Regions from separate parts of the Homo sapiens genome. Here region 2 is linked to region 1. Evidence: fine-mapped expression QTL. A gene starts in region 1. The other region holds a variant in brackets. All regions are shown on one strand. Distances are between the middles of the regions. Region 1 holds the start of NUDT16 (nudix hydrolase 16). Region 2 overlaps NEK11 (NIMA related kinase 11).

Region 1 (5,345 bases):
TTTCAGAAGAAAAGGATTGGGGATTGGTTGGGCTGCTCTCCCACCTTTTAAGAGCCAACTGCTTTGGTCACCACTCAAGACAAGAGCAAGTCTATTTTCAGAAAGCACAGGGGGTGCTCTGTTTCTCTATCCTCCCTAACAAATAGGCTGGGCTAGACCCTGGAGGGCAACCATGGAGGAGTGTGGGAAGGATTCACCCTTGCTTCAGAAGCTCCTTGCAATCAGGGACCAGGGTAGTGTGACAAATGCCACTTCAAGGTTAAACTGGACATGACCAGGGGAAGGTGTCAGGCTGTGTGTTGTTACAGATTGTATATTTGCATGCCTGGGGGTTACCAGGCTGTACGCATATAAACAGGGAGGAGGCAGGCTCTGAGAACCTGCCAGGGTGCCTGGGATAAGCTGTGACTTTTTGCCCCTGATGCCATAAGTTGGAGGGTCCTCTGCTCAAAACATATGGTACACACTTCTCCTTCTTTTCATCTGGTATCATGTATCATCTCTCAGATCCAATAAGAAAACATTCCCACGTCCTTCCCTCCCTCCCTAGTACCAAGGTCCTCATCTCAGTTTTCATGGGTCCATGGAGGGCTGCCTCTAGTGATGAGCTGGAATCTTAAGGCCTGAAATAGAGCCAGACTGCAGCAGTCCCAAGTCCTGGAGAGCTTCAAGTAACTGCTCCCGCGCAGAGCCAATAAAGGAATTCTCCAGGAAGGTAGGCAGGCCTCCTACACCATCCCGCAGGGTATACAGGGGCACTCGCACCAGGCCCAGCACCTGTAAAAGGAAGGAGACAGGAGACACTAGGGCCCCAGGTGGCTCATTCCCTTAACTCCATCCTTTCTCCAGCAGATCAGGCCTCACCCCTTAATACTCCAGCAGAACCAGGCCCAAGGCTCACACCTCACTAAAGCCTAGTGGCCCAACCTTCTGCAGGAAAATGACCCAAAACATATTATCTAGCTCTATCAATTAATCTTTCCCACATCTGCTTCTAAACCTCTAGTGGCTACTGCCTCAAAGATGTATTCATACCCTTTCACCAGTGGTTGTCAAAATGTGGTCCTCAGATTATTTGCATCAGCATTATTTGGGAACTTTTGAAAACTACAAATTCTCAGGTTTCCTCTCCCCCCGCCCCACCACCAATGCAGGAATGCTGAGAGAAATCGCTATTTTAATAAGACGCCCCGATGATTCTGCTACCTGCCAAATTTTGAGAACCACCTTCATACATAATCTATCTACTAGCCCTGCCTGAAATATCAGGGCCACATCTCCTACACAAGAAAAGCAAACCCCAAGAATAAAACCTAGGTTGCCACACCTAGATAATGTGATAATCTATCACACTGTCAATAGGGAACAGCAGAGAGACATGGATGAGTGTGTTCTAGAAAGGATCTCTCCTGGTAAAGGGTGGGAAAGACCTTTACAGAAAGCCCAGGTTGGCAGTACTAATTCAGAGTATAGATGATCACGATCCCAACTCCACCAAGAAAGCTGGGGAGAGGGCAAGGTCAGAGGGGCAAAGACTTTTCTCCAGGGATGCTTTCTTGGGGGAGAGAAAGCTTTGGGAGAAGAGGAAATTGGGAAAGGGACAGAGTCCCAGGCTGGTCCCACCTCCAGCCCGTGGTCCTTGGCGCGTGTTGCGCCGGCCTCCACAGCCAACAGCTCCTCGAGCGTCAGACGCTTGGCATAGAAGTGGGCCACAACGCGTGGCCCTGACCCGACGTGGGAGCTGCGGTAGTCAGTGCGCTCCACGCGGAAAGCGGCAGCCGCTTCGCCCAGCTCCTCGCGCAGCTCGCGGTTCAGCCCGTCCTCTAGGCTTCTGTCCTGCGTGTCCACGAATCCGCCGGGGAAGCCCAGGCGTCCATCGAAGCGCATCTGCATCTGCGGGAGGGGGAAGCGGGGATTGGCAGGGGCGCCCCAGAGGAGACCACCAGAGAGGGTGCGGGGCTCAGGCAGAAAGTGGCCGGGCGCGCCCCCTTCTCACCAGTATGGCGTAGCGCAGCGGGATGCGGCCGAAGAGCATCCCAGGGTCCGGCGCGTAGAGGAGAGCGTGGCACGCATGACGCCAGCCCGACCCCAGCGCCAGGGCCTCGCCTAGCTCCAGCCTGCGGGCTCCGGCCATGGCCGGACACTGCTCCTCTGCTGTCCCGAAGGCCCAATGGGCAGAGGGGCGGGTCTCACCTCGGACCAATCCGAGCCTGGGCGGTGCTGCAAGGCCCAATCCCTGCAGGGATAAGGGGAGGAACCTAGGCGCCTGGGGGCGGGGCGCCGCGACCGGTGCGGGAGGCAGCTAATCAGGGCGGGGCTTGCAGACCGGGTTGAAGTCCAGGGCCCAGGAACCCTAGGGTAACCGAAAGCAGCCTCTGGGTTGGGCCTGCGGTGGGGCGGGGCTAGAGGTGTGGCCGCGCCCTAAACCTGGCGCAAGGCCGGTACCTAAAGGCTCCTGGGAGCCAAAAGAGCAAGTCAGGGAACTAGCTTTGGTTGGGTTCGGTGGTACACAAAGCACAAGGCCTGGGTTGGGGTTAGGAGGAAATGAGACTTGCGGCGGGTCGGGGCTGAAGATGTGGCAGCGCCCTGAACCTGGAGAAAGGCTGGTACGTAAACGCCTGCGTCGCAATCTGGAGTCAGCTGGAGTGTCCCGGCAGGTGAGGAAGAGCTGGGGCGCTCAGTTGAGTGCTGGGAGCCAAAGAAGTAATAACTACCTTTGGTTGGGTGTGGTGGTACACAAAGCACAAGGCCTGGGTGGGGGTTAGGAGGAAATGAGGCAGGGTTGGCCTCAGACACCAAGGCCTATCCTAGGGAAATGGAGATGGACAGGCGCCATGGTCTGACAACTATCTTGAGTGGTGAAATTGAGGGGACTTGGTGACTGAGTGAATGGGGAAGAGGGAGCGCTGGGCTAGTGGTGGTTCCGAGTTTCCTGGATGTGGTGTCATTTTCTGAGAGGGGGAGAGTAGGAGAAGGGTGAGCAGTGATAAGTGTAGTTCTAAGGAATTGGGGTGGCCATAGGCAGTGGGCAGCTGATCGTGGGGGTCTGACGCACAGGGAGTGGCACATAGAGAAGTCACAGGGCAGTGAGATTTTCAGGGGAAGGGTGGGGGTGGAAGGAGCTGTGAGTGAAATCCTGTGGCACAGGACTGGGAGTGAGGAGGGGTGAGAGATAGAAGAAGCCTCCTAGGCTTTCTAGTCTTTCCCTCAAACCCCCTCAGACCTCTGAGCTATGAAGGAGGGTGGGTTACCCTACCACAAGGGCAGAGGCCTACTCAGGGCCTGATGCTGAGATGCAGGATCCCTCACTCCAGGCCAGGCCTTCCCCACCCTGCAGAGCGCCCCTACACCAGGTGTCGATATTGATTATGCAATAGAAAGCAGGAGGCAGCTCCTTGAGGGGGGCTGGGCATAAACTCACAGCCTGTAAGTGACGGCATATGGTGGGAAAGAGTCCGGACCCACCCAGAAACAGGTTTGTGACCTTAACAAGTCACTTAACTCTCTCAGATCCCAGCAGCTCATCTGTTAAGTGGAGATGATACCAACCTATTAGGGATGTTGAGATATGTTAGGCACTTAGAACAGTGCCAGGCAGAAAGTAAATGTAGCCATTCTTGGAGTTGAGGGTTGGGGCACAGTGCTATGTCTTACGTTGAGGAGCCAGGGCTGGGCACATACCTATAATCCCAGCACTGTGAGAGGCGAGGTGAGAGGATCATTCAAGGTCATGAATTTGAGACCAGTCTGGGCAACATAGCGAGACCCCGTCTCTACAAAAAATAATAATAATAAATAAAGACCCAAGTGTTGGAACTGAGCTGCACTCATCACGCTCCAGTGTTTGAAGGAGGGATGAGCTGTATGACATCATCTTTCCTAGCTTAGTCTTCTGCGTTGTGGGGCAGGGATATTATCTAATAACATGAAGCAACTGCATTAAAGTGATGAGTCTGTAGGTGTGATACAATTGTCACTGGCCTGCTAGAGTTCCAGGGGGTTTGGAAATAGCCCTGCTTTAACATTAGAGTCACCTCGCAAAAAGCTTCTAAAAATTTTTAAAAGCTGCCACTTTTTCCTACCACAGACCAGTTGAATCAGAATGTATGGGGTCCTACAGGGACATATGCGGTTTTTAAAATATGTTTTAGGTAACTAATAACCAGGGTGGAGAACCGGGGCCTTCCCCCTTCCACTAGCATTCCAAAGGCGACTTGGTTTTTCTCCTAGATAGGCTACCTTTAATGATTTAGGATCAAACATGCCCTTTCCAGATCTTCAAGCTGTTCTTTCTTTCCTGGTTACTTGAGACTTTAAAGATGGACTTTTCAAGATGACTTCAAAGATTTCAAAGGCAACATGAAAAACTGTAAAACCAAGGCAACAGCTGTACGAGTTTTCATGATTTTGGAGACCAGAGCTTTTTCTAGATGAATATGATGAATATGGAAGTCCTTTAGAGCCCCCAACCTTGCCATCCCTTTCAAATCCTTCTCTGCCTCTGCCCCACCCCCACCAACCATCCCCCATTCCACTATCCTAAGGCAGAATGCCCAGGACTCAAGGCTGCAGGTAGAGGGCTGAGCCATGTACCTAAAGAGCTGTTCCAAGTTCATAATGGTACCTGGAACCAAAAATAACTCTGTAGTCAGCATGGGAAGATTCTAGAAAACCAATCTATTATTTTAAAAATAATAATGAAAAGAACTAAGCATTTATCCTGCCTTTTTTATATGAGCTCTTCCTCAGGGCCACCAAATAGTTAATGAGAGGAAATTTATTTCACAAAGTATTCCAGGTAATCAAAGAGGAAGGACAGAGCCAATCAAAATTTTAACATTTGTTAAACTTTAAAGAATTAATGGAATCTAGGGAATGATCATCATTGGTTGCTAACATCATGAATAGACAGTTGTTATACACATTGTGATAAAAGAGCACACTACCTCCTTTGGATTATCTCTGCCAAAATATTGAACTGTCATCTTGATCTAACAATTTATAAGAAATTCAAAGGAATACCTATTTAAAATATTAGGAAGAGACTAGAATGATCTATGTAGTAATAGATTAGAGTTTGAAACATCAGTATGAATTCATTTTTAGCTTGATGTAGATATGGCTATATATATACACATACATACATGCACACATATATGTATACATACAAAGGTTAGTGTGCACAGATATTTCCTTCCTCTGTCAGCTGAGTGGGCTTAGAAGCAATGATATTCCAGTAGCAACAAACACACCAACTGCCACATTTTGGTTTCTAATACCATTTTCCATAAAAGGAATCAAAGCCCTTTGGAGAAATGGCTGATTCTAACATTGGGCCAGGAAAT
Region 2 (5,380 bases), 150 kb after region 1:
CAAGGGCATAGGGCATATACTCAGAGACTTCACCACTTAAGCAAGAATGTGTCCTCAGAGGCTAAAAGTAGCTAGACAGATTATCCCCTAAGCCCAGGATCTTTGGTTCTGATCCCCAAAACTAAGTCAGTCTTTACAAATTTTATTTGCATTCAATTTGTGAATATGACCCCAAAATATGATTACCAGACAGAAAAGTATATAAAAAGTGCCATTCTCTCTGCTAAAGAGATATTTGCATTTTTTAATTCAATAGCTGTATACGAAGCCCTCCTCAGTGGGAATATGGTGTGTGCCATCTCCCAACCCCCCAAATAAGTGCAGCATGCTCCAGTTCTTCCCCCATCAACATGGTCCAGATCAGATTCTCCAAATTCCATAGGGCCCTGCCTGCCTCTGGACCTTGAAAAGCCAGACTTACCACAAGTAGCTATTATAATAACCCTGTTCCCCATGTCCCCAACTTCACCTTATAAGACTTCCTTTCTTCTCTGGGAGAGTCCAATCAGTACCTTGAACAGTTCCATGGCTTCCGACAGGGAGCATTACATACCTGTTGGTTTGTTCTGTAAGCAGGCTGGGATCCCTCATTCCTGATTTCTTTCTCTGGTCTTTCTAACGCTATTTCTTCTTCCTCCTCATCACTCTCTTCACAATAGGAATCAAATGCATCAGCGTAGTACTCTTCAGCCACAAGTGGGTCTTCTGGGATCTCTGAAATAATGAACAAACAGTCAGATACTACCAGTTATTAAAATTATAATGAGGTAAGAATACTGTATCTTTTCACAGGGATGTATATTTTGCTTGCGTTGACAAAGCTTCCATGGAGTGTAGAGCTGAATCTCAGCTTCCTGGAAGTATTTGGTTGAATGTAATAAACACTCAGCAAAATAAAACCAGTAGAGGAAAGGAGGAACATTTCCATTAGCAACTACCGTTTGAAGGTAAGAAAAAAATCATTAAATAAGAATAAATAATATGCTTTAACATTTTGACATTTGGAGGCATGAATCCTTATTAAAAATGAGGAAATTTAGGGGCAAAGGTAGGACAAGATGTCCTGGCTGAAGGGTCCTATTACACAACACACATAAAGTTTTTAGCATAGGAAGTTGGAGCAAAACTACCACAGCATTTTTCCTAGATATTTCTTTTTTTTTAAATGTTACTGGTAGGACCAAACAAGATGAATAGGATATATAGCAGCATCATTTTGGCAAGCTGGGAAAAACACAATTCTTTTCTAACAGGTAATGATGGCTTTTGAGATGGAGTTCACTCTGGTGGGTCCTACTTACTCAACCTTACATTCAGCACTTATTTTAAAAAAGAATACCCACCTAAGCTGATGACAATAAGCATCTACCCAAGTTACTTGATGCAACATTGTTAGTAACTAGAATAAAGTTGGTGTTTATAACAATCTTCAGTGAAGAAAGGCCATGAATGGATCACAAGAAAGCATAACAATATAATTTACTAATGGGGGGCTAGAAATAAAGAACTACCCAAACAACTACCCTTGGGCTGGGGGAGGAGAAAATTAGAATACTCAGCTGCAGCAAAACAATGGGCATTTTAGACTTTGCACCATACTCAGACTTAAAATTAAAATTTTTCTTCCAAATTGTAACACATTATTTTTCAATCTATTGTTGCTATTTCTGGTCTAGTGGGAAAAATATGAAATTTGGGGTCAGAAAATCAAGGCTAGAATCTAGCTCTTCCACTTTTTAGATGAAAATTTGTGCAAGAGACTTAAACTCACAGAGCTCCAATTTCTGTGATAAAATTAACATAAGTGTAATCTAGTAGAGTGGCTGCTGAGATTGAGTAATAGAATTCTCATGAAAGCATCGGTATGCAGGGAAGTTTCATACAAATGTTCACTCAATTTCCAAGTCTGTACAAATGGGCTTTTCATTAAATGAGTCCAGAATCCTTTGAAAGTAAGATACTTAATGGATGTAGAATTCCCTGGAAATAGAAGATGTTAAAATGTGTTTGTTATCTATGGTTTCCCACTAAAACATAAAAGGCTGCTGTACAGTAGAATAAAAATTAGTCAGCTCAAAAGACAAAAATTACATATATTCAAAATTGCCTTTGCCAGTTCCTTAGAAAGCAGTGTACTAGGGATCTCATACCTTCTCTCAGCAATTTCAACACAGCGTATTTTTTTTTTTCACATCAGTTCAGATCACTGATTTTCAGCTGAGCAACAGATGAGATAGAATACTGTTATGGAGAAGCCATAGTTTTTATTATTTTTATTATTTATATTGAAATAATATATATTATTTTTATTAAACGTGGCTTCT[A/T]GTCATTATATCAAGAAGACACCTGCACGTGTCTGTATGTACACATATATATATAACATACCTATACACATATGTACATGCATATAGAACTTCAATACCTTTTGCATACAAGTGGTTTTTGGTTACATGGGTGACTTTTGTAGTGGTGAAGTCTGAGATTTTAGTGCACCCTCACCGAGTAGTATACACTGTACCCAATATGTAGTCTTTTATCCCTTACCTCCCTCCCACCCTCCTCCCTTCTGAGTCTCCAAAGTCCATTATCCCACTCTGCATGCCTCTGTGTACCCATAGCTTAGCTCCCACTTATAAGTGAGAACATATGGTATTTGGTTTTCCATTCCTGAGTTACTTCACTTAGAATAATGGCCTCCAGCTCCATCCAGGTTGCTGCAAAAGACAGTATTTCATTCTTTTTTTAATGGCTGAGTAGTATTGCATGGTGTATATATGCCACATTTTCTTTATCCACTCATCAGTGATGGGCAGTTATGTTGGTTCCATATCCTTGCAATTGTGAATTGTGTTGTGATAAACATAAACGTGCAGGTGTCTTTTTGCTGTAATGACTAGAAGCCATGTTAATAAAGATCTTCATTTTACTTACACTGAGAACGACAAGAGAATCACAGCATGAGAAGTGTATGAAAACTAAAATCTCCTGAGAGATCTCCAGTTCTGCCATCAAGTAGGGACATGTGCTTGCTGAGTGGAATGAAAGACAGAACCATATGATGTCTTCCTTCTCTTGCCCACCCTCAACTCTCCCTGAATCTCTGTGTCTCTTTCTCTGAGTTGTCCATTCTCCCTCTTTCCCCACTCTTTTCTACTTCCTCTCCCTCTCGAGTCTCTTTGTCCCTTTGACAGTTATTCATTCTCTCACTCATTCATATTTTTCCCTCTTGCTCTCCCATTTTTTCTTTATCTTCATTCCTCCTTGTCCACTCCCTTGGCTTTCAAACTACGACATGGTAAGAAATATCATTTACATTGTTGCCCAGTGCACAGAAATGTGCTTATATATGTATGTTTATAAATATCTTTATAGTCGAAACAAAAGTTTCATACACCAAGACCTATTTACCCAAACTACATATGACACACTCTGGTGTTTTTCATCCTGTTCAATTATTTTTTTAATGCTGGTTGCAACTCACTAAACTGACCTCTCAACCTGCAGTTTGAAAAACACCCCAACCTAGCTAGAGAGGCCAACATTCAGAAACACTCCTTTAGAATGCTGGCTTTGGCATAAAAACAAAATCTGCATTTAAATCAAGCCTCTAGCAATAGCTCTGTAACACTGTGTTATTTAAGCTTTCTGCACTTCAGTTTTCTCATCTATAAAATAAAGATGATAATATTCATCTCATGGAATTGTTGTGAACATTACATAGTATAATGGATGCAAAGTATGTATCAAATAAGGCAAACACTCAGTAGTTTTTCCTGTAATACCCAACACCAGGAAGAAATAAGTCATGCATCACTTAACAACGAGGATATGTTCTGAGGAATATGTCATTCAGGTGATTTCATCATTGTGTGAACATCATAGAGTGTACTTATTACAAACCTCGATGGTATAACCTACTACACATCTATGTTTATGTGGTATAGCCTATTGCTCCTAGGCTACAACCCTGTACAGCATGTTACTACACTGAATACTGTAGACAATTGTAATACAGTGGTAAGTACTTGTGTATCTTAACATTAAAAATGTACAGTAAAAATACAGTATAAAAGATTTTTTAAATGGCACATCTGTACAGGGCTGTTACCATGAATGGAGCACGCAGGACTGGAAGTTGCTCTGGGTGAGTCAGTGAGTGAGTGGTGAGTGAATGCGAAGGCCTAGAACATTACTGTACGCTACTACAGACTTATAAACACTGGACACTTAGGCTACACTACATTTATAAAAAATGTTTTCCCTTCTTCAATAATAAATTAAGCAGCTTACTGTACATTTTTTAAACTTCTTGACTCTATTGTAATAACACTTAGCTTAAAACACAAACACATTGTACAGCTGTACGAAAATATTTTCTTTTTTTCATATCTCTCCTAACTAGGAGATAGTCAATAAGCATTTTTTCTTTCTTTTTCTTTTTCAACTATTTTGTTAAAAATGAAGACACAAACATACACATTAGTCTACTGCTACACAGCGTCAGGATCACTGATACCACTGTCTTCCACCTCCACATCTTGTCCCACTACAAGGTCTCTAGGGGCAGTAACACACACGGAGCCTCCATCTACTGTGATAACAGTGCCTTCTTCTGAAATACCTCCCGAAGGACCTGCCCAAGGCTGTTTTACAGTTAATTTTTTTTAATAAGTAGAAGGAGTACACTTTAGAAAAATGATAAAAAGTATAGCAAGCCAGGCATGGTGGCTCACTCCTATAATCCCAGCACTTTGGCAGGCCGAGGCAGGCAGATCACCAGAGGTCAGGAGTTCGAGAACAGCCTGGGCAACATGGAGAAACCCAATCTTTACCAAAAATACAAAAAATTAGCTGGGTGTGGTGGCGCACACCTGTGGTCCCGGCTAACTGGGAGGCTGAAGTGGGAGGATCACTTGAGCCTGGAAGGTGGAGGATGCAGTGAGCCGAGATCGTGCCACTGCACTCCAGACTGGGTAACAGAGTGAGACCACACCTCAAAAAAAAAAAGTATAGTAAATACATAAAGCAGTAACAGTCATTTGTCATCACTATACTGTACATAAATATATGCATTACACTTTTATATGACTGGCAGTGTAGTAGGTTTATTTACCCAGCATCACCACAAGTATGTGAGTGGCTATGTTGCTCTGCAATGTTATGATGGCTATGATAGCACTAGGTGTTGGGAATTTTTCAGCTTCATTAACTGGACCACCATTGTACATGCAGTCTGTCATTGACCAAAAGATTGTTATGCAGTGTATGACTGTATTAGACAATTGCAAATATATACTCAAGTTTAAAATATTTATTTATTTTAAATAGAATAATTTCTCAAAATCCATACTGAACCCAACTGAAATGGGCAATATGGAAT

What was found. PIP is the estimated chance that this variant, and not a neighbour inherited with it, causes the effect.
Region 2: its variant is fine-mapped to the expression of NUDT16 in blood mononuclear cells (TOPMed, PIP 0.99). The same link has a PIP of 0.9 or more in T cells.

The regions. Positions count from the first base shown.
Region 1 is chr3:131,378,594-131,383,938 of GRCh38, reverse strand. It overlaps NUDT16 (nudix hydrolase 16), which reads right to left and starts at 2,165. Exons shown (of 3, transcript NM_152395.3): 1 at 1,997-2,165; 2 at 1,624-1,893; 3 at 1-777. The coding sequence starts at 2,134. The coding sequence ends at 598. NUDT16-DT (NUDT16 divergent transcript) reads left to right here and starts at 2,464. Exons shown (of 4, transcript NR_038976.1): 1 at 2,464-2,606. RefSeq lists enhancers at 1,157-1,725, 1,726-2,295, 2,587-2,856 and a silencer at 2,177-2,476.
Region 2 is chr3:131,223,862-131,229,241 of GRCh38, reverse strand. NEK11 (NIMA related kinase 11) reads right to left here. Exons shown (of 18, transcript NM_024800.5): 15 at 554-714. Among named protein-coding and RNA genes, the nearest start is that of NUDT16-DT, 150 kb to the left of the region's middle. The variant A/T (reference allele first, on the strand shown) is at 2,325.